Regions from separate parts of the Homo sapiens genome. Here regions 1, 2, 3, 4 and 6 are each linked to region 5. The links come from fine-mapping of genetic effects on gene expression. A gene starts in region 5. Each other region holds a variant in brackets. All regions are shown on one strand. Distances are from middle to middle.

Region 1 (5,048 bases), 110 kb before region 5:
TACACCTCCAAAGAAACACAATAATTCCCCATTAACAGACTCTAAATTGTAAGAGTATATCAAATGGCTAAGAAGAAATTCAAAATAATGATCTTAAGGAAACTCTATGAGATACGAGAGAATACAGATAGACAAATCAATGAAATTAGAAAAACAATTTATGATCTTATGGGAAATTCAACAGGATATATATGTCATTAAAAACCAGACAGACATCTTGGAGCTGAAGAATTTAAGGAATAAAATAAAAAACACAATGAAGAGTCCAGGTGCAGTGGCTCATACCTGTTATCCCAGCACTTTGGGAGGCCAAGGCAGTGGATCACTTGAGGCCAGGAGTTCAAGAAAAGCCTGATGAAAATGGCAAAGTCCTGTCTCTAAAAAATACAAAAATTAGTTGGGTTTGGTGGCGCATGCCTGTAATCCAAGCTACTTGGGAGTCTGAGACACAAGAATTGCTTGAACCCAGGTGGTGGAGGTTGCAGTGAGCCAAGACTGTGCCACTGCACTCCAGCTTGGGTGGCAGAGTGAGACCCTGTCTCAAAAAAAAAAAAAAAAAAAAAGAAAAATACAATCAAGAGATTTAAAAACAGACTTGGGAGATATGACCAAAATCTAGGAAGCTCAAAGGTTCTCAAATAGATTCAACCCAAAAAGGTCTTCTCTGAGGTGCATGATAGTCAAACTGTCAAAAGTCAAAAAGAGGGAATATTCGTCAGGTGAGGTGGCTCACATCTGTAATCCCAGCACTTCAGGAGGCTGAGGCGGGTGGATCACTTGAGGCCAGGAGTTCAAGATGAGCATGGCCAACATGAAGAAACCACATTTCTACTAACAATACAAAAAAATTAGTTGGGTGTGGTGGCATGCACCTGTAGTTCCAGCTACTTGGGAGGCTGAATCACGAGAATTGCTTAAACCCAGGAGGTGGAGGTTGCAGTGAGCCAAGATCACACCACTGCACTACAGCCTGGTGACAGATTGAGACTGTATCCAAAAAAAAAAAAAAAGGAAATATTAAAAACAGCAAGAAAAAAGCATCAAGTCACATATAAGGGAAACTCCATTTGATTAACGGTGGATTTCCCAGTGGAAACTTTACAGGTCAGTAGACAATGAGATGGGATGATATATTCAAAGTACTGAAAGGAAAAAAAAAAAAACTGTCAACCAAGAATACTATACCCAGCAGAGCTATCCCTAGAAATGAGGGAGAAATAACGTATTTCCCAGACAAGCAAAAACTGAAGGAATTCATTACCACTAGACTGGCCTTACAAGGACTGCTTAAGGTGGTTCTACTTCTGGAAGCAAGAGGATGATTACTATTGTGAAAACATACAAAAGTATAAAACTCACTGCTAGCGCAGATATACACATGAGAAAGAGAAAGGAATCAAACTTTATCACTACAGAAAATGACCAAACCACAAAGATTAAAAAAAAATAGAAGAAGAAAAGAACAAAGGATATATAAAACAACCAGAAAAAAAATGAACAAAATGACAGGATAAAGCCTCATCTATTAATAGTAACCTTGAATATAATGTAAACAGATCAAATTCCCAATTAAAAGATATAGAGTTGGCTGCCAAGATTAAAAAAAAAAAAAAGTCCCACTGTATACTGCCTACAAGAAACTCACTTCAACTGTAAAGGTTCATACAGACTGAAAGTGAAGGGATAGAAGAAAATATTCCTGGCAAACAGAAATCAAAAGAGAACAGAGGTAGCCATACTTACATCAGATAAAACAGACTTTAAGTCAAACTGTATGAAGAGACAAAGAAGGTCATTTTGTAATGATAGAGGGATCAACTTAGCAATAAGATATAATAATTGTAAATATATATGTACCTAACACTAGAGCACTCAGATAAACAAAGCAAATATTATTAGGTCTAAAGGGAAAGATAGACTCCAATGCAGCAACAGTTGGGGCCTTTAACACCCCACTCTTACCACTGGACAGATCATCTAGACAGAAAATCAACAAAGAAATAACAGAGTTAAGCTTACTGATAGGAATAAGTTCTGGTGTTCTATAGTGCTGTAGGGTGACTACAGTTAACAATAATTTATTGTATATTTTTACATAGAGAGGATGTTGAGTGTTCCCAACACAAAGAATGATAAATATTTGAGGTGACAGATATGCTGACTATCCTGATTTGATCATTACACATTGTATGCAAGTATTGAGATATCCCTGTGTACCTCATAAATATGAACAAGTATTATGTGTCAGTTAAAAATATTTTTAAAGAATGAAGGAAACCGATTTTTTAAATGAAAGGAAAGAAAATTACCTGACTTGGCTGAATGGCCCCATGTGGTCTCTCATTCTCCAGTAGGCTACTTCAGGCCTGTTCACGTGACGGCAGAGGCAAGAGTCCCAGGAGCGGCAACAAAACAATGCAAATCCTCTTCCGGCCCAGGCTCAAAATTATATATTACTTCTACCCCATTTTATTGGACAATGCAAATTACACTACCAGTCTGGATTCAAGGAGTAGAAAATAAACTCCAACTCTTGATGGAAGGAACTATAAAGAATTGTGGCGGTTTTTGATAGTCTACCATAGGGAGGAAAGATGGGGATGCTATAACCCAAAATGTGTATTCTTAGGTTGAGATCCTAAATTATAGTCAGGGCATATGGCTTTAGGCTCTGTGGATGACTAAATTAATTTCAAACATATAATGCTGTTTACTGTGAAGTGCCAGCTGAAAGGATCATTGTTTAATTTTATGTAATTTACAATACTTATTATACCTCAATAAAAATGTAATTATTGAGGGCTGGCATCAGTTGCCGAGAGGTGGAAGGAGTACCTCTCTGCAGTGTGTTAACTCAGTTCCGGACAGGACAGGGCTGCAAGTTCAGCTACTTCCCAGATAATGTCCTGGATCCCCTGCCTGAGTCATCATCCCATGACTGGAGAACGTGGACAGATTATTTTATCAAGAAACTGGTG[A/G]TAAACGAGGGACTATAGGAATTAAGAACTAAGGCTAGAAAAGAAATGTTTAGAGTGATGCAAGATGGCCAATTAGAAGCAGCTGCAGTCTGCCGCGCTCACAAAGAGGAATGAAAAGGGGCGAGGGAATTCAGCACCTTCAACTGAGACAACCAGGTTCTCACATTAGGACTGACTAGATGAACAGGTCGACCAATGGAGAATGAAGACAAGCAGGCAGAGGGTGCGATGGCCCAGCCAGGGGTGGCGTGGAGCCAAAGGAACCCCCACTCCCAGCCAAGGGAAGCAGTGAGTGAGTGTGCAGTCCTGCCCGGGAAACCGTGCTTCTCCCATGGATCTTTGCAAGCCATGGATCAGGAGATTCCTTGTGAGCCCATGCCACCAGGGCCGTGGGTCTGATACACAGACCTGTATGGAGTCTGGGCACATCAGCTCAGGCACACACAGAAACCCAGGAGTTTTACACACTCTAGCCTCCGGGATCTTCAGCACAGTAGGAAATCTGTCCGTACGCATCTCTGGGAAGGGGGCCGAATCCAGGAAGCCAGGCAGCGTCATTCTGCAGGCCCCATTTCCATAGCACCTCACAAGTTAAGACCCACTGACTTGGAATCCTAGCCTGCCAACAGCAGCGGGTTGGAATCCACCTCAGATGGGTCTGAGTTCCCGGGGAGGTGGGGAGAGGCAGCCGGCACCACTGTGGTTCATAGACTCAGCCACTCCAGCCTGCCAGCTATGGAGAATACAGACAGTCTGGACAAGGAAGAGTTCCCCACAACACAGCACAGCTGGCTTGCCAGATCATGACCAGACTGCTTCTTTAAGCAGGACCCCCATCCATTCCTCCTCACTGGGCAGGAATCCCTGTGGGGGCTTTAACCACTCCAGCAACGGTTCTATGGACAGAGCTTTGATCTCTCCCTGAAATGGAGCTCCTGGCGGGAGGGGCAGCTGCCATCTCTGCAGTTTGGTCAACTCAGCCACTCCAACCTGCTGGCTTTGGAGAATACAGGTGGTCCGGAGGAGGAAGGATCCCCCACAATGCAGCACACCTGCTCTACCCCAAAGCAGCCAGACTGCTTCTTTGGATGGGTCCCTGATCCCATGCCTCCTGACAGGGTGAGAATGCCCAACAGGGGTCTCCAGCCACCTCCTGCAGGTATGTGTGGGCTGGCTACAGGTCAGTATCCCCCTGGGATGGAGCTTCCAAAGGAAGGAGCTGGCTGCCATCTTTGCTGTTTTTCAGCCTTCACTGGTAATACCTCATTCAGAGTCTATGAGGAACTTAAATTTACAAGAAAAAAACAACCCCATTAAAAAGTGGGCAAAGGATCTGAACAACACTTCCCAAAAGAGACATGCATGCAGTCAACAAAAATATGAAAAAAAAGCTCAACATCACTGATCATTAAAGAAATGCAAACAAAATCACAATGAGATACCATCTCATGCCAGTCAGAATGACTATTATTAAAAAGCCAAAAAACAACAGATGCTGGGAACATTGTGGAGAAAAAGGAATGCTTTTACACTGTTGGTGGGTGTGTAAATTAGTTCAACCCATGTGGAAGACAGTGTGGCAATTCCTCAAAGACTTAGAGGCAGAAATACCATCAGACCCAGCAATCCCATTATGGGGTATATACCCAAAGGAATATAAATCATTGTCTTATAAAAATACATGCATGCACACGTATGTTCATTGCAACAGTATTCACAATAGCAAAGACATGGAATCAACCTAAATGCCAGTCAATGATAGATTGGATAAAGAAAATGTGGAACATAGAGCAGGACGTGTGGCTTCTGAGCGAGAACATTTGTAGTGCCAGTGACGAAAGAGAGAATTTGAGAGATATTGAGATGTTGAGAAAGAGAGATGTTGAGAAAGGCAAGAAGATTTTTGTTCAGAAGTGTGCCCAGTGCCACACCATGGAAAATGGAGGCAAGCACAAGACTGGGCCTAATCTCCATGGTCTCTTCAGGTGGAAGATAGGTCAGGCCATTGGATTATCTTACATAGACACCGATAAGAACAAAGGCATCACCTGGGGAGAGGATACACTGATG
Region 2 (5,048 bases), 88 kb before region 5:
GGTTTGAGTCCTGACTCTGCAATCACATGATATTGGCCATGTGATACTGTGTGGCTTTCATTCAACACTGGGAATCTCAGTTTCCTCAATTATGAGAATAACCTGAGGTCCTATGGGTTTGTGGTGGAAATCAACAAAGCTTACAAACTTAACATGCTTACTAGTCCCTAGTGCACAGTAGGCACTCAATAAATGTTCGCTGAATGTCATGATACTAAATCATGATGAACATACTAAATAAGAAGCATGCCCAAAGTGGTTAAAAGACCAATGTTTCCTAGTAAATATTCATCTACTGATAGTTACTAACTGCTGAAAACAACAAAACTGGCTTTGAATATTTTTACTGATTGGCCTCTACACTTTTTGGTTCACATTCCGCTAGCAAGAAAATCTTGTGCCTACACCCCCATATAATGTGCTCTTGCATCAATGTTATGTACATCCTGAAATAGAAAATATAGAACAAAGTTTCAAATATGCAATAAACAGGAAATAAAAAATATTTAATTTTTTTTTTTAGATGGAGTCTCACTGTGTCGCCAGGCTGGAGTGCAGGGACACGATCTCGGTTCACTGCAACCTCTGACTCCTTGGTTCAAGTGATTCTCCTGCCTCAGCCTCCTGTGTAGCTGGGATTACAGACACGTGCCACCACACCCAGCTAGTTTTTGTATTTTTAGTAGAGACGGGGTTTCACCATCTTGGCCAGGATGGTCTCAATCTCTTAACCTTGTGATCTGTCCGCCTCAACCTCCCAAAGTGCTGGAATTACAGCTGTGAGTCACCGTGTCTGGCCTAAAATTGTTTGTCTTATGTACTCAAGTGCCAACAAACCATTTTGCTAGCACAGTAGCAGTAATGGAGTAAGAGCAATATGCTGGAATATACTTGATCAATTTTGAAAATCTTTACTTTATGATATTACAGTTCAAAAGCAGGTTCAAAGTTTATACTTGTTTTAACAGCTATAATATTAATAATTGGCAATGATCTAAATAGAATAAATGCGTCTTTGGATGTGCCTATTAAGTCAATACTAATTTTTTAGTCCCACCTCCTAGCTGTTCAAAGTGTTTTTTCTTTGATATTTATTTAATTAATCCTCTTGGCAAGTGGCACTGGTTTATTTTAAAATAAAATACAAAAAATAGGCTAGTGTAGTGGCTCACTCCTGTAATCCCAGAACTTTGAGAGGCCAATGCAGGCAGATCACTTGAGGCCAGAGTTCGAGACCAGCCTGGCCAACATGGCGAAACCTCATCTCTACCACAAATATAAAAATTAGCTGTGCACACCTCTAATTCCAGCTACTCAGGAGGCTGAGGCACGAGAATTGCTTGAAACTGGGAGGTGGAGGTTGCAGTGAGCCGAGATCGTGCCACTGCACGCCAGCCTGGGTGACAGAACGAGATCTGGCCTCAAAAAATAAATAAATAAATAAAAACAAAACAAAAAAAAAGAAAACTCCCAAAATAGAAAAACAAAATAAATTCTCATCTTTCTTGGCAAACTAATGAGAAGGTATTGCTTTTTAAAAAATGGAAGTATAAATTACATATAGTAAATTATGATTTTCTTTTTTTTTCAGACAGGGTCTCGCTTTGTTGCCCAGGCTGGAGTGCAGTGGCACGATCACAACTCACTGCAGCCTCAACCTCCTGGGCTCAAGCAATCCCCCCGACCTCAGCTTCCTGAGTAGTCACACACTACCACACTCGGGTAATTTTAAATTTTTTTGTGGAGACAGGGTCTTGCTATGTGGTCAAGGCTGGTCTTGAACTCCTGGATGCAATCCTCCTGCCTTGGCCTCCCAAAGTGCTGGGATTACAGGTGTGAGCCACCGTGCCCAGCAATGCCTGGGTAATTACAAAAAGTTTTTTGTAGAGATGGCAGTCTCATTGGTTACCTAGGCTGGTCTTAAACTTCTGGGCTTGATCTTGGTGGGCTCAAGTGACCCTCCCGTCTCAGCCTCCTAAAGTGCTTGGATTATAGGCATGAGCCAATTTGCCTAGCCCAGAACTTCCTGAACACCTGTTTTGTGTTTGAGAACTTTTTCTTAATCATGACACTTAAAAAATAATTATCAATATTTCTTTAATATCATAAAATATCCAGGTAGTGTTTAATTTTTCCTATCTCATTTTTTTAAATGCAGTGGGTTTTGTTTGTATCAGGACCTAAACAAGGTCTACCCTTGCTTTTGGTTGATATGTCTCTAAAGGTTTATTTACAGGTTCTGCTCCTCAACCTTTTTTTTCTATTGCCATTTATTTTTCTCTTGCCATTTATTTCCCCACATTCCAGACTTCGCTGACTGCATTTCCATGGTGTCAAGTAACATGTTCCTCTATTCTCTGATCTAATTCAAGTTTAGAAATCAAGGGGTTTTGTTTAACTTCTTTGATTTTATACATATTAGTTTCTAACAATATTAATATCTACCTTCCAAAATAACAAATCAAAAGTATTATTAACACCATGACTACTCCCAGTGAGATTTCTTTGTAATATTTTTTAATCCTTAGGTACTATCCCACTAGAGAGATATAGTCAAATTATGTACTTTTTTTTTTTTTTTTGAGACGGAGTCTCACTCTGTCACCCAGGCTGGAGTGCAGTGGCACGATCTTGACTCACTGCAAGCTCTGCCTCCCAGGTTCACGCCATTCTCCTGCCTCAGCCTCCCCAGTACCTGGGACTACAGGCACCCGCCATCACACCTGGCGAATTTTTTTTTTTTTTTGTATTTTTTTTAGTAGAGACAGGGTTTCA[C/T]CATGTTAGCCAAGATGGTCTCGATCTCCCAACCTCGTGATCTGCCCACCTCGGCCTCCCAAAGTGCTGGGATTACAGGCGTGAGCCACCGCGCCCGGCCAGTACTATGTTTTAAATTCACCTTAAATTAATTCCCAGGATGGGCACAGTGGTTCATGTCTGTAATCCCAGCACTTCAGGAGGCTGACGCGGGAGGATTGCTTGAGTTCAGGAGTTCCAGACCTGCCTGGGTAACATGGCAAAGCCCCTTCTTTACAAAAATACCAAAATTAGCAGGGCGTGGTGGTGCACACCTGTAGTCCCAGTTACTCAGGAGGCTGAGGTGGGAGGATGGCTTGAGCCCAGGAGGCGGAGGTTGCAGTGAGCTGAGATTGCACCACTGCACTCCAGCCTGGGCGATAGAGCCAGACTTTGTCTCAATAAATAAATAAATAAATATCAATCTTATGCATTATTATGTAAAATATTTACACAGTTCCAAAGTCAAAACTGCAAAACAAAGCACACTAGGAGAAACCTAGCTTCTATCTTTGTCCCCTCTATCAAATCCCCGTAGCAATAATATTATTAGTTTGATTAGTTTTCCCCTTATCTTGCCTTTAAAAGAACATAAGCCAATTACATGTGTATGTATATGTGTATATGTGTATGCATGTGTGCATGTGTGTGTGTGTGTGTGTGTGTGTGTATATCTATATCTATATCTATATCTATATCTATATCTATATATCTCAGAGGGATCCTACTCTGGTCTTGACCCTCTTGCCATGGGGTGGGGGGTCTGTAGGGACAAGAGAATATGCCCACCCCAGAGCCCATATCCTCCTTTTTAGACCCTGCAACTCCAGCATCCCTGACCACATGGCCCTGAGTCCACTTCCAGGGTCTTCCCTGGTCTGTCATCCTGAGTTTGAACAGTGTTGCCATCTCACTGGTGCTACAAGGTGGCTGGTGTGAGGGGGCACTGGCATGGGGTCTGGATGGCATTTTGATGGGTGGGGTGGGGTATTCACGTTTGCAGGCAAACCCTCTTAGGGTGCTGGGGGTCAACCAAGGGCCGAATTTGAACCTGGCCTTCCAGGTGGTTATGAAGTTGTATTTGCCAAGGGAGGAGATTAGAACACATTTAATCTAATAGTTTGCTAGTTTGATTTATAACCTTTAAACACTTGTTATAAACTACAAAGTTATAAACTTTAAATACTTGTATTGTATTCTTGTCCCAGGCCCTGCCATTGTTGGGAACAGGGCTGGGCCCAACAGTCACATTGTGGGTCTTCTGGAGGCACCCAGGATCAGCAGACTGCAGTGAAGAGTACCACATCCAGAGCCCAGAAGCGCCAGCCTCCAGCGGGAGCTGCACTGAAACTCTTTGAGCCCATTTCCTGTGCAGCCCAAGGCACAAATACATCAGCCCTGCCCGCCACAGGAGACTATGGGCAAGCTGTCACCTGCAAACAAATTCTCTTGCTACATACTTATAGTGTACACATGTAAGATAATTCCCTATAGCTGTTTCTAAGGTTTATTAAATAAATAGTTGAAAATATAAATAAGTTGCATAATACTATAGTTAAAGCCACCTGGAAATAGAAGCGTCATCCATTTTCATCAGTGATTTGAACACTATTCCCTCTTTTTCCAACCTGGTGCGAATAAACTGTAGTACCAGCATTGTGGCAATTAGGTCCAGGAGACATTCTCTTCCTTTTACACCTAAAAGGAAAAAAACTCCGTTAAGTCTGTTGGAAACTCTGCATCTCAAACTGTGCCTGTTTATAAAATTCTCATTAAAGAATTACAATACGCCATCTGGCTAACACAATGAAACTCCATCTCTGCTAAAAAAAAAAATACAAAAAATTAGCCGGGGGTGGCAGGCACCTGTAGTCCCAGCTACTCGGGAGGCTGAGGCAGGAGAACGGCGTGAACCCGGGAGGCGGAGCTTGCAGTGAGCCGAGATCACTCCACTGCACTCCAGCCTGGGCGACAGAGTGAGACTCTGTCTCAAAAAAAAAAAAAAAAAAAAAAAAAAGAATTATAATACGGTTAAATCACAGTACATGAGCAGATCGTGAAACTCTAATACTCTTCAAGGTCCTTAAATGGTTTGCTGTTTAAATAAAAAATGAGGACAGTTAGACCCGTGTGCCTATGATATTATCCTGATCATTGTCAGGAAACTGAACTGTATCCAGAGTGCCCCTCACTTGCCATCTTCAATAACCAAAGAGCCATGAAGTTCACTAAAAGAAATCCAGTTTTTAGGCTCC
Region 3 (5,048 bases), 48 kb after region 5:
TAAAATATTTGCTTGATCTGGAGAACATATATGAGTTTCTCTGTTGAAATATTTTGGTTTTCAATACATGCTTTCCTTACTTCTAGGTCTCATTGCTTTTAAATCAGGAAATTCAGAACATGTTTAGGAAATATTGAGAAATTCATTGTTTTTTCACTGAAACTCATTATTCATTATAATTTCAACAGACTACCTTTGAGAATGTTCCACAGAAATATGATAGTCACTTAACTGGAGCTGATGATGGTCAAAGAGGAAAAATTACAATAAAGGAACAAGAAGGTAAGAACTGTATTTTATTTAAAAATTTGACAGAATGTTTAAAAACATGAGCTCTGTTATGTTCTAGTAGCCAAGGAAAATAAGGTATTAAGTGCATAGTCAAAAAAAGAGAAGTGAAATAGTGATATGTTGTATATTTTGTAAGGCATTAGCAACCAATTTAATTGAGAGTGCCACTAAAGGAGCTGAATCATTAGTTCCAATTCAAGATACTGTAAGACCTGAGGAAAGTCAGAAAATAAGGAAGAAGAAAAGAGTAAATGAAGGAATGAAGAGTGAAAAGGCGGAGAGTACAGGGAGTAAATGAGGGAAAAAGATATATGCAATGAAGGGCGATAGAGTAAGATAATTATTTGAGGAGAATATAAAGTGAGCTTCCAGTACCGAAACTTGTCAGAGAATTCAAGCAAAATGTTGCCACTCTTGCTGTTTTCCTTACTTTTGGGAATGCATTAAGGATGGAGGTACCTGACCACACAGAGCTATGTTTCATCTGCGATAGAGGAATGTAATGTATGGTCAGCCGTGCATAAATTACATGTCTATAATTTAATGTGCTATAAAATCTTGTTACTTCATGGGACAGTATCTTAGGGGCCAAAAGAAGAGCATTGGAAAGAAGAGGGTAGGATTAATTATGGAAAGATCAAGGAAGCTATAGCCTGATAAAAAGTTCATTAGTAACTTTACGACTTGTAATGCAGCTTAGATTTGGAGGACGTGATAGGGTGGAGCTTGAGGCTGGATTCCAAAAGGGCAGGTTGAGGTTAACTAATGTGGGAGCACACTCAGTATAGACCAGAGCTTCCCAAATTTTAACAAATCAGCTGAGGACCTTGTTGGAAGTGCAGATTCTGATTCCACAAGTCTGCGATTCTGTATTTCTAATAAGATCTCAGGTGATGCCGACCCTTCTTGTCCTAGGACCACACTCTCAGTAGCAAGGGTATAGCTGTGCCTTCAGAGAAATCTCGAAGAAGAGCCCTTGGATCACCACTCAAGACATAACAGGATCAAGGGAAAGCATGATTTTCCCTTTATTTCTGAGCGTGTCTCTGGCCAGAGGGGAAGGAGAAAGAGATGAAGAAACAGAAATCATCATTGGAAGATACTACTGCTAAATGAAGAGAAGAGAAGTCATGGGAATAGTCCATCAAAAGGCGGCAGAAAGGTCAGAATCAGGACAACAGATCTAGAGACTACTTTTGCAAAGGAAGAGGGATTGTGAGTGGAGGAGGAGGGAGGAAAGAAAGAAGTTGGCTAGTTAATTTTGGAGTTGATAATAGGGAAACTTGAGAGCTGTCACTTCTAGTGACTGCAATATATTGGCACTCAAACAGAAGATTAGGTGATTGCTGTTCCAGGAATTACTGGAAGGAGGGAGTGCTAGAATGGGGGTAAACCACAGGAACTAATTTCTTCTCTCTGTAACTATCAGACATCAAAGATGCATGTTTTGTTGATATTGTGTCCGGAATTGGTGGGTTCTTGGTCTCACTGACTTCAAGAATGAAGCCACGGACCCTCGCGGTGAGTGCTACAGCTCTTAAGGTGGCATGTCTGGAGTTTGTTCCTTCTGATGTTCGGATGTGTTCGGAGTTTCTTCCTTCTGGTGGGTTCGTGGTCTCGCTGGCTCAGGAGTGAAGCTGCAGACCTTCGCGGTGAGTGTTACAGCTCTTAAGGCAGCACATCTGGAGTTGTTCGTTCCTCTCGGTGGGCTTGTGGTCTCACTGGTTTCAGGAGTGAAGCTGCAGGTCTTCGTGGTGAGTGTTACAGCTCATAAAAACAGTGTGGACCCAAAGAGTGAGCAGTAGCAAGATTTATTGCAGAGAGTGAAAGAACAAAGCCTCCACAGTGTGGAAGGGGACCCGAGCGGATTGCCACTGCTGGCTGGGGCAGCCTGCTTTTATTCTCTTATCTGGCCCCACCCACATCCTGCTGATTGGTAGAGCTGAGTGGCCTGTTTTGACAGGGCGCTGATTGGTGCTTTTACAATCCCTGAGCTAGATACAAAGGTTCTCCACCTCCCCATCAGATTAGTTAGATAGAGAGTTTCAACACACAGGTTCTCCAAGGCCCCACCAGAGCAGCTAGATACAGAGTGTCGATTGGTGCATTCACAAACCTTGAGCTAAACACAGGGTGCTGATTGGTGTGTTTACAAACCTTGAGCTAGATACAGAGTGCCGACTGGTGTATTTACAATCCCTGA[G/A]CTAGACGTAAAGATTCTCCAAGGCCCCACCAGAGTAGCTAGATACAGAGTGTCGATTGGTGCACTCACAAACCCTGAGCTAGACACAGAGTGCTGATTGGTGTGTTTACAATCCCTTAGCTGGATATAAAGACTCTCCATGTCCCCACCAGACTCAAGAGCCCAACTGGCTTCACCCAGTGGATCCTGCACCAGGGCTGCAGGTGGAGCTGCCTGCCAGTCCCGCGCCATGCGCTGGCACTCCTCAGCCCTTGGGCGGTGGATGGGACTGGGCGCCGTGGAGCAGGGGGCAGCATTCGTCGGAGAGGCTCGGGCTGCACAGGAACCCATGGAGGCGGGGGAAGGCCCAGGCAGGGCGGGCTGCAGTCCAGAGGCCTGCCCCGTGGGAAGGCAGCTAAGGCCCTGCGAGAAATCGAGCGCAGCGCCAGTGGGCTGGCACTGCTGGGGGACCCAGTACACCCTCCACAGCCGCTGGCCCAGGTGCTAAGCCCCTCACTGCCTGGGGCCGGTAGGGCCCGCCCGCCGCTCTGAGTGCGGGGCCCGCCAAGCCCACGCCCACCCAGAACTCCAGCTGGCCCACAAGCGCCGCGCGCAGCCCCGGTTCCTGCTAGCGCATCTCCCTCCACACCTCCCTGCAAGCTGAGGGAGCCGGCTCTGGCCTTGGCCAGCCCAGAAGGGGGCTCCCACAGTGCAGCGGCGGGCCGAAGGGCTCCTCAAGTGCCGCCAAAGTGGGAACCCAGGCAGAGGAGGCGCCGAGAGCAAGCGAGGGCTGTGACGACTGCCAGCACGCTGTCACCTCTCAATATGAGTTAATCAACTGAGGTAAAGTTAAATGTAGGAGCTTTGGCTGCTTTTTCTTTAAGGTAGCCGGTTTTTTAAATAGGATGCCTGTTTTGTAAAAGTTTATCATGGATGACATGATATGCCAACCCAAACTAAGTTTGGAAACAAAAAAAATTACAAAGTTTATTCCTCAAATACAAAAGGCATTACTTTACATAAATATTACACCCATTTTGGTATATAAAAGCTCAGTAGTAACTAATAATTGTGTAGCAATGCATTTTTTATTAATATTTCAATGTTGAAAGCTTCTTAGACATTATTTTTAGACATGTTTTATATACCTTCTTGCATGAGTGGATCAAAAAATTTAAGATGGCTAAACTACGGGATATAAGAAATGTAGGCCTATCAGTAAGCTCAAGTAGGTATGAAAAAAATGAAGATTTTTATGAACTATTTTGTGTAAGTGTGGATCCAAAGCAATTCACACTTGTGAAAGTGTGGATCCGAACACTTTCTCTGATGAGAAATGAATTAAACATTCAAATGAACTGTCATGACAACTGTGTGCTTCCTACATTCTAGGACCAATTGAAGGACATAGTAGGTACTTGTAGTAGAATGGTATAAATGATTCTGATGTGTCACATTAAAGACACACTATAGCATTCTACCATCAGCTTTGACATTTATCTGCCCAGGGTCATGATTTGCTCCTCTGGTTAAAGATCATTTTTCTCCTCCTCAGCATGTACACATGGTTGCGTGCATACTTTTCTCTCAGTTACAGATATTCGAATCAGAATCTTGCCTTTGAAATGTTAACTGCATGTTTTATTCAACCTATCTTCTTAGTTTTCTTCAGGATATTTCTGTCATGTTGTTGTCCTGACAAAAAAATGCACCCCTAAATCTAAACTCATTATTTTTAAAACGAAGCACTAAGATTCAGCTTGATACTAACTCTGAGTGTATGGTTAGATTTATCATATTTATATATAATTGATTATATGTCCCTTTTGCCTTCCAGATTCTCTTCAGCAATATCATCACTTGAAGGTAATAACTTTTCTATATTTATCTTTAATTATTAACCACATAGTATATGAAATATATATTACTTATTAATCATTTTGTCTTAAAACCCTTTCAGCCTAAGGTTGAAATGAAAGAGTGTGTTTCGAACCAGGCAGTCGGAATGAAAGATGTACAAGCATGCACATCAGGTAAAAATTTTTGCAATACAAATTTAACTCTGGAAAGAAGCACATTAAAAATAGTTTAAATGCTAGCAGTCTTCGTATTCCTGTCTTTTTTTTTTTCAAATTTGAGGGATAGATTTGATATATATAATGCAGATATTAGCATTGGTATCTATGTTTGAAAAACATTATATTTAGAAGCATAAGATAGATTTTAAAAATGTAAGCTCTAACTTAGATGTATCTTGTATTACGTATTGCTACGCTGAAGTTCTCAGTTGGGAATACCTATACTCATTCGGGTTTCACAGAAGTGAATTATGAGACTACAATTTTTTCCCGTGTTTGAAATGCTTGTTGGAATTCTGATCTTTACCTAGAGGAAAGCTTTCCTTGCTAACATGTCAATTTTGTATAAAGTTTAATTACTTCATCCTAGTGTTAGACTGATTATCTGAAGCAAATTGGATGTTTTGATTAGTGTGTGTGTGTGTGTGTGTGTGTGTGTGTGTGCAGGGAATATCTTGGAGTACAAAAATGAGGAAAGTAATCTTTTTTTCATGGCT
Region 4 (5,048 bases), 100 kb before region 5:
TAAAATAAAATAAAGTAAAATAAAATGAAGGACAGAACAGTATTCTAATGGTTGCATGATATTTAATTAGTGCTATGATTAACCTCTAATGTTGGACATGTAAGTGTCAGTATAATCAGTAATACAGCAACAGACATCTTTGAGCATAAGGCTTTTTAACTGTAATAGATTGCTAGAAGTGAAATTACCTAGTTAAAGAGTATGAATATTTTTAGTGTTCTTAATATATATTGCCAAATCCAAGAGCAACTGTATTCTTGTATCAACAATAAATCAAAGTTTTAAATTTCATGCCTTATTTTGCCGACATTGGATTTTCTCATTAAAAGAGAAAGGGCTAATTTCATGGGTGCAAATGGCACGTTATTGTTGTTTTGAATTCGTTATTGGTGACACTGAATATTTATCTGTGTAGGTTGTTGATCAGTTAGATTTTCTCTTTTACGGATTGTTTATGTCCTTGGCCCATTTATCTATAAGGTGAGTGAGTAATATTTAAGTTGTTGTTAATGAATTATTAATTTATCATACTCGGCATAGTCCCCATTTAGTCAATTTTTCTGAAAAATCGTTTCCCCTGTTATTCATTATAGCATTTTAAAGCAGAAATTTCAGATTTTTATGAAGTCAGACCTAAGCCTATTGATCTTCCATTGATTCAACACTTTTAGTTCTTCCTCAGCCAAAGAATTGATTAAAATTTGCTTAAATTTCTCATAGATATTTATAGTTTTTATATGTGATTTCTAAGCCCGTATGGATTTTATGTAAGAAATTCCATGAATTCTGAAGTATATAAAACTGTTTATCCTTGCCTCCCCCACTATGCAGATTCAGAGTGTTCATCTTTTTGACTTATTATTTCTTCCTAACAGAGATAGCCAGTTTAATAAATGGATGATTTTGATATGTTCATTTTATTTTTCTCAATATTAAGCCGGTAAACATTGCTCTGAGGGTACCATACTAATCAGTTTTAAAATTTCGTGTCATTTTTGTTGTTGCACAGACATATATACATATGTGTGTGTATGTTTCAGAAAGATGTATTTACTGAAAGTTGGATTCATATAGTGGTATTAACTGTATTTTAAATAATAAATACTATTTGTTTTTCATTTTAAGGGTTATACGTACATATATATATATATACACACACACTTATAGGTACATGTATATCTTCATTTAAAAAAATAAGAGAACCGATGAGCCAAAAAAGTCTCCATATTGTTACCAGTTATTTAAAATTTGTTATGTTTATCTTTTTCTATCACGCATACACACAATCATACTATATACTTTTTGCATTTATTTGTTTACATAGTGCTTACGTAGACTGTAATATGCAGATCACTCTCTAAAGTTGTATCCATTCAAAATTAAATTTAAATAAGAACCAATATGAATTAGATTTAAACAAGAACCACATTAACTGTGAATTAATGATTTAGAACAAATTTACTTAAAGTTAGTTAACCAGCTAATTTACTTATGTGATAGCTTTAAACAGTGTGTATTTACAATAGAGACTCAACTGTGTAGCCAAACACACATTGTGGACTATTTGAAAAATCACAGTGGATTAGAACTTGAAATTTGCATACCCTGTTATTCCCCGAATCTCCCCTAGAAGATGCTAGTGAGAGACAAATTAATGAAAGTAATAACCATTTTAGGTTCCCCCTAGGAAATAGCTTGTGTTGGTGTCATGTAAATAGGTAAGATATGTGTTTTTCTTTTTTAGGAAGTTGTGCACTTTCTAGACGAGAAGCATCCAAACCACTATCAAGTCTACAATCTATGCAGTGTGTACGTTACTCTATATTTTGCTACTGTAGATAGAAAACAGATTACTGCATGTAAGAAGATGATTTTGTTTTTTAGATTGCATTTAATCATAAGTATTTGGTGGTGGCAAGGAATGAATTTAAAAATCCCTATCTTGGACTGGCCCCGTTTACTAGAAAGAGTTAGCCCAGCAGCACAAAGTACCGTATGAAGGATGTGGCTTTGGCAGTACC[A/G]GTGATGCTGGGGTGGAAGCAAACCATTTTAGGGAAGATCTGTTCTACCCATATTAGGTTTAGGAAAATCTTTCTGTTTTTCCTGCCAGATTGTGTTATGAGGACATAGACAATTTAACAAATGAGTCTTCTGACCCATCAGCAGTGGCATGTGATGAGAGCAGGGCTCTAGATGGGAAAAAGGCAAAAAACTCTGTAGAAAATAGGTTGTTACCCAGCTTAATACTCTGTCTCTCTTGATTTTTACCTCTACCTGTATACTCAGTAGACATTTTCAGGGGGCAATGATTTTGGTCAGCTACATTTGCCTCTTGTGTGGTTTCTAACTACCCTGCAATAATATAATGAATAGTCTGCTAGAAAGTTAAAAATTATACCTATTAAACAAAAATAAGTTGAGGTTAGATTACATGAGATGGATAAACCACTACCATCTTTATGTTTTTGAGACCTTGCATTTACTTTAGAGAGCAGGAGCAACTTGGAAAGCTCTTTTTGAAGATAGATGAGGAATTCTAATAAGATATGTTAACTTATTCGTAACTTCATCATTTATCATGTTATTCCCTGTAGAGATAGGACATACATATTATTTATTTTAGGTGAAAGAGCTTATGATCCTAAGCACTTCCATAATAGCGTTGGTAGACTCATGATTGATGATCATAATGTCCCCACTCTACAGTAAGTTTTATGCTAAGCTGGCTATCAGAAGAGGGCTAAATATATTGGGCTTGATTTTTTGAAGATATTTTAACTAAAAATCTTAAACTTGAAATCAGTGAGATGGTGGTTTTCACCAAGGAAGTAAATGAGTGGATGGCTCAAGATCTTGAAAACATCGTAGCGATTCACTGTAAAGGAGGCAAAGGTAATAACATTTTCCTTTTCATTTCTCCCTTTCTAAATACATGTAAATATAAAGTACAAGAACAAGATACGTATTGCTATTAATACGTATTAATAACTGTTATCATTTTAAAATATTAGCTCCAAGGTGGAAAGAAGGGAAGGAGAAAGGAAAGAGGAGAGGAGGAAGGGTGGGAGATAGGGAGAGGATAAGGAAGGGAAGAAAGTAGGAAAAAAGAACTAAGGAAGGTTGAGCATATTTTCCCTTGTTTTCCTAGTATTTGGCTTTCTTTATTTTTGGTTTGCCAGTTTATATCTCTCAAAATACAAACAGTCTTTAATTTTAGAATGTCAGAGTACTTTTATTTTATTTAAGGCTGATTTTTTATTTTAAAATTAACACATAAAAATATATTTATGGTGTACAATATGATGTTTTGATATACATAAACACTGTGAAATGGCTATATCAAGCTAATTAACGTATGCATTACTCCACATACTTTTTTGTGGTTAGAACATTTAAAATCTACTGTCTCAGCAATTTTCAAGTATACATTAACTATGGTCACTATGTTGTACAATAAATTTCCTGAACTTATTCTTCCTGTCTAACTGAAATTTTGCATCCTTTAACCAACATCTCAGCCTGAGCGCAGTGGCTCACACCTGTAATCCCAGCACTTTGGGAGGCAGAGGCAGGTGGATCACCTGAGGTCAGTAGTTTGAGACCAGCCTGGCCAGCATGGTGAGGTCCTATCTCTACTAAAAATACAAAAAATTAGCCGGGTGTGGTGGCATGCACCTGTTATCCCAGCTACTCAGGAGGCTGAGGCAGAGGAATCGCTTGAACCTGGGAGGCAGAGGTTGCAGTGAGCCGAGATCGCACCATTGCACTCCAGCCTGAGCAACAAGAACAAAACTCCATCTAAAAAAATAATAAAGTAAAAACCAACATCTCCACAGTCCCCCCAGCCCCCGGTAACCACCATTCTACTCTCTGCTTCTATGAATATGATTTTTTAAAATTCCACAAATAAGTGAGTCATGCAGTATTTTTCTTTCTATGCCTGGCTTATTTCACTTAGCATAATATTCTCCAGGTTCATCCATATTATCACGTGACAGGATATCCTCTAAGGCTGAATTGTATGCCTTTATTTATAGATAGCACATATTCTTTATCCATTCATCCACTGATGACATTTAGATTGACTCCATAGCTTGGGTATTATGAATAATGCTGCAGTGAACACGGGAGTGCAGATTTCATTTCCTTTGGATATATACCCAGAAGTGGACTCTCCAAATCATATGGTAGTTCTATTTTTGGTTTTTTGAGGAATCTCAGTGCTGTTTTCCACAATAACTACTAATTTACATTCACACCAACAGTGTACAAGGGGGATCCCTTTTCTCTTCATCCTCACCAACTCTTCTCTTGTCTTTTTGTTAGTGACCATCCTAACAGGTGTGAGGATATCTCTTTGTGGTTTTAATTTGCTTTTCCCTGATGATTAACGAAGTTTAGCATTTTCTCATATACCTCTTGGCCATTTGTATGTCTTCTGTTGGGAAATATCTTTTCAGGTTCTTGGCCCATTTTCCAGAGAAGTAACTTGTTCTCTTGCTATTGTGTTGTTTGATTTCCTTTTTAAAAATAATCTATTAACCTATTGTTGAATGTATGCTTTGTAGATATTTTCTCCCATTCTGTAGGTTGTCTCCTCACTCTATAAATGTTTCCTTTGCTGTGCAAAAGTGTTTTAGTTTGATAAAGTATCATTTGTCTGCTTTTTCTTTTGTTGCCTATGCTTTTCAGTCATATCCAAAAATACCTTGGCCCAGACCAATGTCAAGAAGATTTTCACCTATGTTTTCTTCTAGTAGTTTTCCTATTTCAGCTTTCACAGTTAAGCGTTTACTTTGAGTAGACTTTTGTATATTGGGTGAGATAGGTTGCAATTTCATTCTTCCGCAAGTGGATATTCAGTTTCCCCAGTACTGTTTATTGAAGAGACTGTCCTTTCCCCATCTTGGATTCTTGGCACCTTTGTACTCAGCTGAGTATAAATGCATGGACTTATTCTGGGCTTTCTATTCTGTTCCATTGGTCTAGATGTCTGTTTTTGTTCCAGTAATATTTAAGGTTGTTCTTAAACTTTGTGAGAACCTTTT
Region 5 (5,048 bases):
ATTTTTTTGGTGTTATTATTTCTTGTATCATTGTATTTTCTAAATTATTAATATTCTATATTTAATGTTATAGCCAGTTGCTCTTTACTTTTTAAATAGGACTTTCACTTTCACAGCTTATTTAGCTTTTAGTGATATCCTCCCCATGTCACTAAATATTCTTTGAAGGTGTTTTTAGTGGTTACATAAGCTTTGCGTTTATTTCATCCTTCCCCAAGTCATCAGATACTTGGTTACTTAAAAGTGTTCACTATTGGCCGGGCGCGGTGGCTCACACCTGTAATCCCAGCATTTTGGGAGGCCGAGGCGGGCGGATCACGAGGTCAGGAGATCGAGGCCATCCCGGCTAAAACGGTGAAACCCCGTCTCTACTAAAAATACAAAAAATTAGCCGGGCGTAGTGGCGGGTGCCTGTAGTCCCAGCTACTTGGGAGGCTGAGGCAGGGGAATGGCGTGAACCCGGGAGGCGGAGCTTGCAGTGAGCGGAGATCCCGCCACTGCACTCCAGCCTGGGCGACAGAGCGAGACTCCGTCTCAAAAAAAAAAAAAAAAAAGTGTTCACTATTAGAAATACACTTTAATTAAAATGCTTGTACATATATTTTTTTGCCACATCTCTGTCATAGTTTCCCTAGAGTTGATGGCCAGAAATGGAATTACTGAATCAAGGAGTATAAACATTTTTTAGCCTTTTAAAAATTGTGGTACAGTTTTTAAAACTGTGTGTACAGTTCAGTGGCATTAAGTACATACACATAGTTGTGAAATCAAAGTATAAACATTTTATTTTATTTGAGACAGGGTCTGGCTCTGTCTCCCAAGCTGGAGTGCAGTGGTGTGGTCACTGTCACAGCTCACTGCAACCTCGACCTCCCTCCCAGCAATCCTTTCACCCGGCCTACTTAGTAGCTGGGACCACAGGCCTGCACCACCATGCCCAGCTAATTTTGGTAGAGACAGGGTTCTTACTATGTTGCCAAGGCTGGTCACAAACTCCTGGGCTCAAGCCATCCTCCTGCCTCAGCCTCCCAGAGTGCTGGGGTTACAGGTGTGAGCTGCCACGCCCGGCCCAGAGTAAAAACATTTTAAACATAAATCTGCGGTCTGTTCTTAGCACCTGCGGCTGCGTGGGAGGTATGGAAAGGCGCACTTTGGGTTTCGTGAAATCTCAAGTCAGGTCTTGACTTCTCTCTTTCCACAGATTCATCTCTAGTCTCTGTAAAATGCCAGCCCTCTTCTGGGTTAACAGCGCCTAACCGACATGCGCCACTAGTTCTTCCTTGTTTCAAAGTGTTCTCTAAACACAGAGTTAGTTCATGTTTTCATCAGCGCTGATTACGTACATATGAGATGTGGCGGACACTGGGCTAGGGGCTGGTTATTCTCTAAGGCAAATCTGCACAGTCACTCCAGCCTGTCCCCCTTCCCAGCTTCTTCCCCAAATAACATTCACAGAGTGTCTTCCACCCAAAGACAGCAGGGAACAGCCCCGATTCCTAAGAAACCCTCAGCGCGCCTCCTCACAAACTCTTGGCTGCTCCATAAACCATTGGTGTAGGTGGAATCAAGTGGCTTCCTGCTTCACAGGTCTTCGTCTTTACCACTGGCATTTCCTCCTCTCGGAAAACCCTGAGGAGTCCCTTTCTGGGCAGTCTTGATTCTACAGCCTCCGCCTTCCGAAGTGTGTGAGTCAGCACACGCTAAGATCACTTTTGATATACAGTGGGCATTCAATAAAAGCTTGCTTACTAAAAACTCTCACGTATCCATTAAAGCCCAGGATTACAGAAAAGCCTTCTGACACTATTTGCATTTTGGACTCAAATGGCATCAGTAATGCACCTCCCTAATGGGTTTATTAAACCCTTAAACAACAAAGGTACTACTTTTATTTCACTCCTACATGATATACAGTAGCTCTACGCACACAAACAAGACCTAATGTTTACTTAATAAATGATAAAGTCAGATGTAATGAGTCTGCAACACGCACATCTCAGAGCGAACTTCCCCTTTATCATAGCACTATGCTTGGATATTGTCATATAATTGTTGTCATCCAGCAGTCCAGAATTGAAAGTGCTTGGGCTTGAATATTTAGCAGCGCCTTAGTTTTCTAGAACCTGTGATCTACCAACTCGATCCCTGGGTGAACCATTCGGCCCTCCTAGCAGGAATTACTTAACTGAGTTAGAGGTTTTCAACTTTGGACCTCAACAAACACATTGTTTCTATCACGGTGTTCCCAATGACTCACGAGGTCAGATAGTACTTCCTGATTACTCACCAAACCACCTTACTTTTTGCACAATTCGAAACCTAACTTTAGGAAAGAAGGCCGTTTGGCATACTGGAAACAAGAAACAACGCGTGCTACTGCGAACCGCACCGCACGGGGTGCGGAGACTTGGTGTGACTGTCGGCTCCGGTGGGCGCCCCCCACCGCACCCGGTTTCTCGTCACCAGGGCTGCGCCGCGGGGCAGAGCGGAACGACCGCAATATCCCTCCCCGAGGGCGCTGGCTGCACTAGCTAGTCCACTCCCGAGCCTAGCAGCGCCGTCAGGCCCACAGCGCCAACGCCGCGCAGGGCAAGGGTGCAGCCACTGGCGGGAAAGTAGTACGCGGGCCACTTCCTGGCTAGGACTACAGGGACCTTTGCAGCCCCCCACCCCGCAGCGCCCACGCACCTGCCTAGAGGATCCAGCTAGCTCCGGACGCTCCCCGATTCCGCGCTCCTTGCTCGCGGTACTTCCGTAATCTAGGCTCTCCCTGCCCCCGGGGCTGGGCGGGCGCCACTGCGCCGGAACCCCGCCCCGCACCAGGCGGGCGCAGCGTCCCAAGCAGGGACGATAGCCGGAACGCGCCCGGAATCGGGTCCGCCAGGTGGGGAGCGGGTCCCCGGCCTCTGGCGGGGTTTCTCTTCCAAGATCAGCCGGAGGGTTCAGGGCTTTCAGTTTCATATTTCAGGAGGGATTTTGTCAATGAGGATTAATACAAAGCTCGGCTTTGAGAGAGGTGGGTGGATGGTGCTGTCCTTTAACTGAGAAATGGAAGGGATTCACAAGGCCGGGAAAGAAGAAAATTTCGGGAAAGTTCGTGGAAACAGGAGAGTGAGATAATAAATTTACTTTAAGCCTTCCTGCGTTTGAAATTCGTGACAGTGTAACTAGTTGGAAATATATTTATCTGCCATTCAAGAGAGGCAGGGGGCTGGAGATACAGATCTGAGATTCACTGAAATGGGAATAAAGCAATGGGGAAGATTCAGATTTTTAGGATACTGAATAAAATGAGAATAGAAAGGATAGAGTAGAGAATACAGTGGAAAGGGTATGGGGTTGAATCCTGACTCCACAATTTATTACCAAGGGGGCTGGGGACAAGGTAATTTACCAAGTTTCATCATTACAACCTACTCTATAGGGTTGTCTAAGAAACAACAAGAGATTCTGGGGGAGGAGAGAGACTGATTCCTAGAGTTACCACATCGTAATGCTCAAAATGTCCAATCTTCAACAAAAAATTATGAGGCATGCAAAAAAAAAGGCGAAAAAATGGCCAATTCAAAGGAAAAAAGAAATGAACAGAAATTGTCCCTGAGCTGAGGAAGCACAGACATAGGAATTATTAGACAAATACTTCAAATAAACTGTCTTAAACATGGACAAAAAGTGAAAGGAAACATAGAAAAATAACTGAAAGAAACAACCAGGAGAACAAAGTCTCAATAAATAGAGAATATGCAATAGAAGATGTGCAAATGGTCAACAAGCATGAAAAAAAGCCCAGCATAACTAATTATCAGAAAAGTGCAAATTAAAACTGCAATGAGATACCATCTTACACCAGTCAGAATGGTTATTATTAAAAAGTCAAGGAACAACAGATGCTGGCAAGGCTTTATTGAAAAGGAAATGCTTATACACTGTCAGTGGGAATGTAAATTAGTTGAACCACTGTGGAAACCAGTTTGAAGATTTCTCAAAGTGCTGAAAACAGAACTGCTATTCAACCCAGCTATCCCATTACTGGGTACATATTCAAAACAAGAGAACTCATTCTACCAAAAAGACACATGCACTAGTATGTTCGTCACAGCACGCTTCACAATAGGAAAGACATGGAATGAACTTAGGTGCTCATCGACAATGGACTGGATAAAGAAAATGTGGTACATTTGCACCATGGAATACTACGAAGCCATAAAAAGAATGAATGGAATCATGTCCTTCACAGCAACGTGACTGCAACTGGAGGCCATTGTCGTAAGTGAATTAATGAAGGAACAGAAAACCAAATACCACATGTTCTAATTTGTAAGTGGGAGCTAAACACTGGGTACTCATGGATATAAAGATGGCAACAATAGACACTGGGGACAACTAGACAGGGAGGGAGGGGGAGGGGCAAGGGTTGAAAAACTATTGGGTACTATGCTCAGTCCCCGGGTGAGGGGCTCAGTCATACCCCAAACCTCAGCACCACGAATTATATGTAGGTAACAAGCCTGCACATGTACCCTCTGAATCTAAAATAAAAGTTGAAATTATTTAAAAAACAAATAAGGAATATTAATAAAGAGATAGAAATTATAAAAGGAACCAAACACATTTTGGAACTGAAAAGAACCAAAAAGAAATTGTGTAGTTAAAAAGTACAATAGGACCAGGCATGGTGGTTCATGCCTGTAATCCTAGTGTCTTGGGAGGCCAAGGCGGGAGGATCGCTTGAGACCAAGAGTTTGCCTTGGCAACATAGGGAGATCCCCTCTCTACAAAAAAATTACAAAATTAACCGGGCATGGTGGTGCATGCCTGTGGCCCTAGCTACTCAGGAGGCTAAGGCAGGAGGATCACTTGAGCCAAGAAGTTCATGGCTGCAGTGAGCTAAGATCACACTCCTGCACTCCAGCCTGGGTGACAGAGCAATATCTTGTCTCAAAAAAAAAAAAAAGAAGAAGAAAAGAAAAAGAAAAAAATACAATAACTTAAATGAAAAATACACAAGTGATGCTCCAGAGTAGATTTGAGCAGGTAAGAGAAGGAAT
Region 6 (5,048 bases), 150 kb before region 5:
CACATTCATCACACATGATCATCACACACGTCACACATACCACACATACGCTCATCATACACACTCATCACAAGCAACCCACACACACTCATCACACACACACATGCACACCTGCCAGACACCACACGCACCACACCATATATACACTCAACCATCACAGGCACACACACACCACACACACAAACTCATCACACATACACCTGCACACACGGCCACACACACTGGGCCATCACACAGACACCATGCACCACACACACTCATCACACACACCACACACACAAATCGGGCCATCACACAGACACCATGCACCGCACACACTCATCACACACACCACACACACAAATCCAATCACCTCACACACCCATCCACCCCCATCACAGCCCCCACCTCTGCTGAATGGAGCCCCACCATCCTTCAGTGGCCAGCTGGCACCTCGTCCTTGACGTGCCCCATCACACTTCCCTCTCCCGCCCACGAGGACCTCGGTAATGTCGCCCCTGAAACTGCTGCGGAACCTGGAGCCCACTGTGATGCAGAATTGGAATCCCAGCTCAGCCCCCTGCACTCCCGATTGCCCAGAAGAATGCCTTATTCCTGAGAGCCCCTTGGTTCTTCTCCCTCTCAGGTTAGGTGAGAAGGTCAATCTGGCCCTGCGGGTTATGCTGCCGGTTACATGAGAACCTCGTCGGCATGAAGAGGCCAGGCAGGTCCTCCGACAGTGCCACAGCCCCAGGCTTGTGCAGCTAAATCACGGAGGCCTTCCAGGCCCTGAACAGGAACCGGACGGGGCCCGAATGACACTGCTGGGGGGCCGCTCTCTGGATGCCATTGTGGCCGGGTACCGGGATGGTCGGCTGCTTGATTCCATGACTTAAAGCTAGATTTGGCCTTTTAAGCCTCTGTCTCAGTGCCCTTGGGTCCCTTCTGCGGCTCACCTACCTGTCTCTCGGTCTCTGGGGTGGGCTGGCAGGGTTCATTCTGGGACCTAGGTGGTGTGGCAGCAGTGGCTGTCATGGTGCAGAGCCGGCTTCTCGGAGTGCCTGGTCTGGGGATCCCCAGGGAAGGCACTGAAGCTGTCTCCTTGGCTCCCGGGCCTGTGAGGCCCAGCCAGCTCCACCCCTGCCCCACCCACCCCAAGCCCCACAGGGGGCCCCTACCTGGCAGCTCAAGTCCAGCCCCCTTTCCCAGGGCCCTGGGGGGCCCCATCCCCACCTCGTGCCAATCAAGGGTGATGTGTGGGCTGCTGGGCCTTTGGTCCCTGTTAGGGTCGCTCAGAGAAGCCTGGGTGGACATGAAAGTTCGAGGCTTCCAAGCCAAGACTCAGGAATAAGCAGGGACCTTGCCTGTAGCGTCCCCAACTCCTGAGCAGCTCTCCAGCTTCTGGCTCCCCTGGCTCTTTTTGGCTGAGGGGGCTCCTCTGTGTAACTCGGCCAGGCCCTCTTTCCAGGCTTTTATTCTTCCTGCAGTCAGAGAAGGGGACAGAGGGGGCCTCTGGTGCCAGCTCTGAGGCCTCTCTTGAAGCCCAGCCTGAAGGTGTCTGTCCCCACCTGCTGCCACCCCCACCCTGAGATGGGGGCTTAGAGCCTTTGCCCTGGTGGCTTGCCCTGCTGGGACTCCTTCCTCTAATCTCAGAATGACCGACCCCTCGCCTCCCTCACGTCGCCGTTTCAGAGCTACTTTCTCACCCAGACCCCTGACCGGTGCTCCTAGTTTCCCCACCCACCTGTGCTACGTGTTCCCAGGTGTCTGCCACCTGCAGCAGGCTGCCCAGTCATTTCTCCCTCCCGGTGTGCTTTCACCATCGAGCCCCTTCTGGCCCCATCCTCCAGCTCCCGCCGTGTTGCTCAGAGCAGCTCACGGTGCACGGCGACTCCGGGGAATGGGGTTCCCACAGCTCCTCGGCTTCCATAAAGGCCACGGCGGGCTCTGCAGGGCAAGCTGGCCTCTGCGATCACTGCGCAGTGACCCCTCACAAGTAGCATTTTTGCACTTGGGAATCTACACGTTTTTTCATTTTAAAAGGAGTGTGTCCCTGCTGTTTGAGAAATATGCCCAGGAACACAGCCCTTCTCAGAGAGTCTGGATACTTAAAAGGAAAGCTCTTGATTACATAGGGGAGTTCACCGTGGTGCAGTGTTGGCTGAGGCATGGCCAGCACAGGGCAGGAGCTGGGGGATTGGCACCTCTGAGGACAGGAAGACACTCATGGTAGCAGCAACACACTGGTTGCACCTGCAGAGGCCACAGGCTCAGCAGAGCTGCCCTGGCGATGCTGGTGATTTCGGGAGCTCTCTCTAGAGGGCCGGGAGATACTGCAGCCTCAGAAGTGGCCGCCAGGAGTGCCTCTGGCAGATTGAGATGGTGATTTAGCTGGTGATCATGCCGCCGTCCGTGTTCACTCTCCATCAGAAGCCACACCTCACTCTCTTAGAGCGAGGGAGAGACACACTCAAGCTGGGGGT[G/A]AATGGCATCTGCAGAGCCAGATCCAGGGGCCAGGAGGATCGGGGACTGCCCGGGAGGAGTCTCCATGCCACGTGAGTCAATCAGGGAACCCTAACTGGAAAGCAGTAATACAAAGTAATTGAGTTTAATACATAATTTAGATGGTTACTCGTTAAGCTAATGCCTCCCGCTTAGGTGTGGGGAGAAAATTATTTATCTCATAGACGGGGAAGATTTCATTTGTTTTTATAATGGAATGCTTACCAATTGACTTTAGTAAGAGCAGTTTGTTAAATCAGATTTTGAATTGGTGCATAGATTTGAAGTTCATAAGTTAGTTTTTGATGTGATATACTTAGCGCCTCCCTTCTTCCCTTAAAGTGGCTGGATTTATTCTCCCATGAGGCTGTGCGCTCATTGTTGTCCTGCATTATGGAAATTACATCGGTTCTCCGTGGTGTCTTCATGAGAGGCAATTTTACTCCTGACTTCTACCGTTTTTTTTTTTAATTTAAGAAGGGACATTAAAGAGACTCTGCTTGCTGCTTTGCGGGGACTTTTTCCTCTTGAAAACAGTCCCAGGGCTGCAAACAAATGCTTTGGTTAAATACCAGAAAGGAACTTACTAACAACTCCTTACTTGGGTCCAACCAACTGTCATTCATTAACCTGTTTGATTTTCTCAGCAATCCTGTGAAGTCAAGCGGCCGCTAGGAACCCAGCTCGTGTGTGTGCACGTTGAGGCCCCGGGCCTGGTCACCACCCATAGCTGGGTGCTGGCCTGGCAGTGGGGACCAGGCCTTTCATACCCACAAAGCAGGGCTGCCTGGGCCTGGACCCAAGCTCATCTGGCCAGCCCAGTGATGGCGACCCTGACTCAGTTTCCCTATCAACAGAACAGGGATAAGATACTGAGTACCTTGGAGAGGGTTTGAGGATGGAAGGAGGCGATGCCTGCCCAGGGCATGGAACAGAGCCAGTACCAAGAGCTTAGCTCTGGGCATTGCAACTACCCCAGTGGAATGGCTCCCGGACCCCTCCCCGAACCAGCTCCCCCTACTCCAACAGCCATACCGCCAGGCAGACAGCATCTGACCCAGAGGGCCCCACCCTCACGCCTGCTTCTCCCCAACTGTGGGGCCTCAGGTGGGCATCCCTGTGCTCCAGGTCTCAGCGTCCTCAGCTATGAAACAGGCTGCTGAGGCCTCCCTAGGGCACCCAGCATCCCTGCTGAGGGCAGAGGGGATCTTGCTGACAGGCTGCAGGAGACCACCCCAGGAGCCAGGGGTTTGCCCAGTCTCCTCTGGGGCAGCCGTCCAGGCAGAACCTCAGCCCCCAGATAGCAGGATCAGGGCGAAAACTAAGTCATCAGGACCACAGGCCTGCAGGCCATCCCTGCCCGGTTCATTCAGCAGCCTCAGTGACAGGTGCTGGGGAAGGCCCTGGTGCAGGCAGCCTTTATTTCAACTTTCCCTGGACCCCCAGCCCCTCCAGCTCCAGTCTCTGTGTTCCCATAGAGACCCCCAGGGCACAGCAGGGAGTGCTTTCCACAGCCCCAGCTGCACCGCACTTCCAGCTTGCCTCTGGAAACAGCCACAAATAGCAGGGCAGCACCAGAAGGCAGGCCTTTAAGGAGAATGAACACAGGTCTCCACCCTCAGACAAACACAGGTCTCCACCCTCAGATGAACACAGGGCTCTACCCTCAGACAAACACAGGTCTCCACCTTCAGACGAACACAGGCCTCCACCCTCAGATGAGCACAGGTCTCCACCCTCAGCACAGGTCTCCACCCTCAGGTGAACACAGTCCTCCACCCTCACATGAACACAGGCCTCCACCCTCAGAAACAGAAGCTCCACAGAGCCCCCAAGGGACCCTGGGGCACCCTGGAAGCATCCACTGCATACTGGAGCCACCTCAAGAGCCATGGGGGCTGGGAGCCCCGGGGTTCTGGGAAAGCTCTCCCCAGTGGAACATTGGAATAAATGTGCGTAGCTGTGAAAACTCCCTTTACATAAAATCAAAAAGAGAGCCTGTGTAAAACATTTCTAAATACCCAGGACCTTAAGACACAAGCCCTTCCTGCTGGGCACCTCCACAGCCGCTTCCTGCCCTTCTTGCCTCCAAGCCGGTGCAGCTCCTTCTAAAACACCTTGGTGCACCCAGGGTGCCCAGAGGAAGGCGGGAGCCCACGGGAGGCACGTGGATGGGAGTGAGCCCCTCCACCAGCTTGCTGGGAGGCAGATGGTCAGGGAAGGGGTGCCCCACCACTCTACTGCAGAAGAATCTGTTACCATGGAAGCATCCGGGGCAACGAGGAGGTGACTTTACACCCCAGGAAGTGGGGCCCTCTGCCCCAGGGATGGGTGAGCTCATTTGCCAGGAGGCCCCTTCAGACTGAGGCACCTGGGGTGGGGGGTGCAAATCCTGGTCCTGCCCCCAAGGGCCCTGGGCATGGATGCCCTCAGCAAACTCTCCCCAAGACCCAGGCACGGGGTGAGGCGGGACCTGTCCTGGAGCTCCCAGGCTGGGGCAGCAGGGAAGGACAGGGCGAGGGGCCCTGGTGTGAAAGTCCAGGTGGGAACGCCCTCAATTGCCCCCC

Evidence for each region. PIP is the estimated chance that this variant, and not a neighbour inherited with it, causes the effect. A credible set is the group of variants that fine-mapping cannot tell apart.
Region 1: its variant is the best candidate, but not a certain one, in a credible set for the expression of PARP4 in lung (TOPMed, PIP 0.65).
Region 2: its variant is the best candidate, but not a certain one, in a credible set for the expression of PARP4 in monocytes after interferon gamma (Fairfax 2014, PIP 0.62).
Region 3: its variant is the best candidate, but not a certain one, in a credible set for the expression of PARP4 in whole blood (INTERVAL, PIP 0.84).
Region 4: its variant is the best candidate, but not a certain one, in a credible set for the expression of PARP4 in whole blood (INTERVAL, PIP 0.90).
Region 6: its variant is the best candidate, but not a certain one, in a credible set for the expression of PARP4 in neutrophils (BLUEPRINT, PIP 0.61).

The regions. Positions count from the first base shown.
Region 1 is chr13:24,395,862-24,400,909 of GRCh38, forward strand. It overlaps the pseudogene CYCSP33. Among named protein-coding and RNA genes, the nearest start is that of LINC00566, 67 kb to the left of the region's middle. The variant A/G (reference allele first, on the strand shown) is at 2,979.
Region 2 is chr13:24,422,108-24,427,155 of GRCh38, forward strand. PARP4 (poly(ADP-ribose) polymerase family member 4) reads right to left here. Exons shown (of 34, transcript NM_006437.4): 33 at 4,359-4,491. Among named protein-coding and RNA genes, the nearest start is that of PARP4, 88 kb to the right of the region's middle. The variant C/T (reference allele first, on the strand shown) is at 2,776.
Region 3 is chr13:24,557,975-24,563,022 of GRCh38, forward strand. LOC101927375 (ankyrin repeat domain-containing protein 26-like) reads left to right here. Exons shown (of 11, transcript XM_011535334.3): 4 at 189-282; 5 at 4,311-4,339; 6 at 4,434-4,506. Among named protein-coding and RNA genes, the nearest start is that of PARP4, 48 kb to the left of the region's middle. The variant G/A (reference allele first, on the strand shown) is at 2,495.
Region 4 is chr13:24,406,413-24,411,460 of GRCh38, forward strand. No RefSeq gene overlaps it. Among named protein-coding and RNA genes, the nearest start is that of LINC00566, 77 kb to the left of the region's middle. The variant A/G (reference allele first, on the strand shown) is at 2,022.
Region 5 is chr13:24,510,018-24,515,065 of GRCh38, forward strand. It overlaps PARP4 (poly(ADP-ribose) polymerase family member 4), which reads right to left and starts at 2,761. Exons shown (of 34, transcript NM_006437.4): 1 at 2,689-2,761. All of the region lies in intron 1 of LOC105370117 (a long non-coding RNA gene), which reads left to right. RefSeq lists a silencer at 2,759-2,918.
Region 6 is chr13:24,357,157-24,362,204 of GRCh38, forward strand. No RefSeq gene overlaps it. Among named protein-coding and RNA genes, the nearest start is that of LINC00566, 28 kb to the left of the region's middle. The variant G/A (reference allele first, on the strand shown) is at 2,463.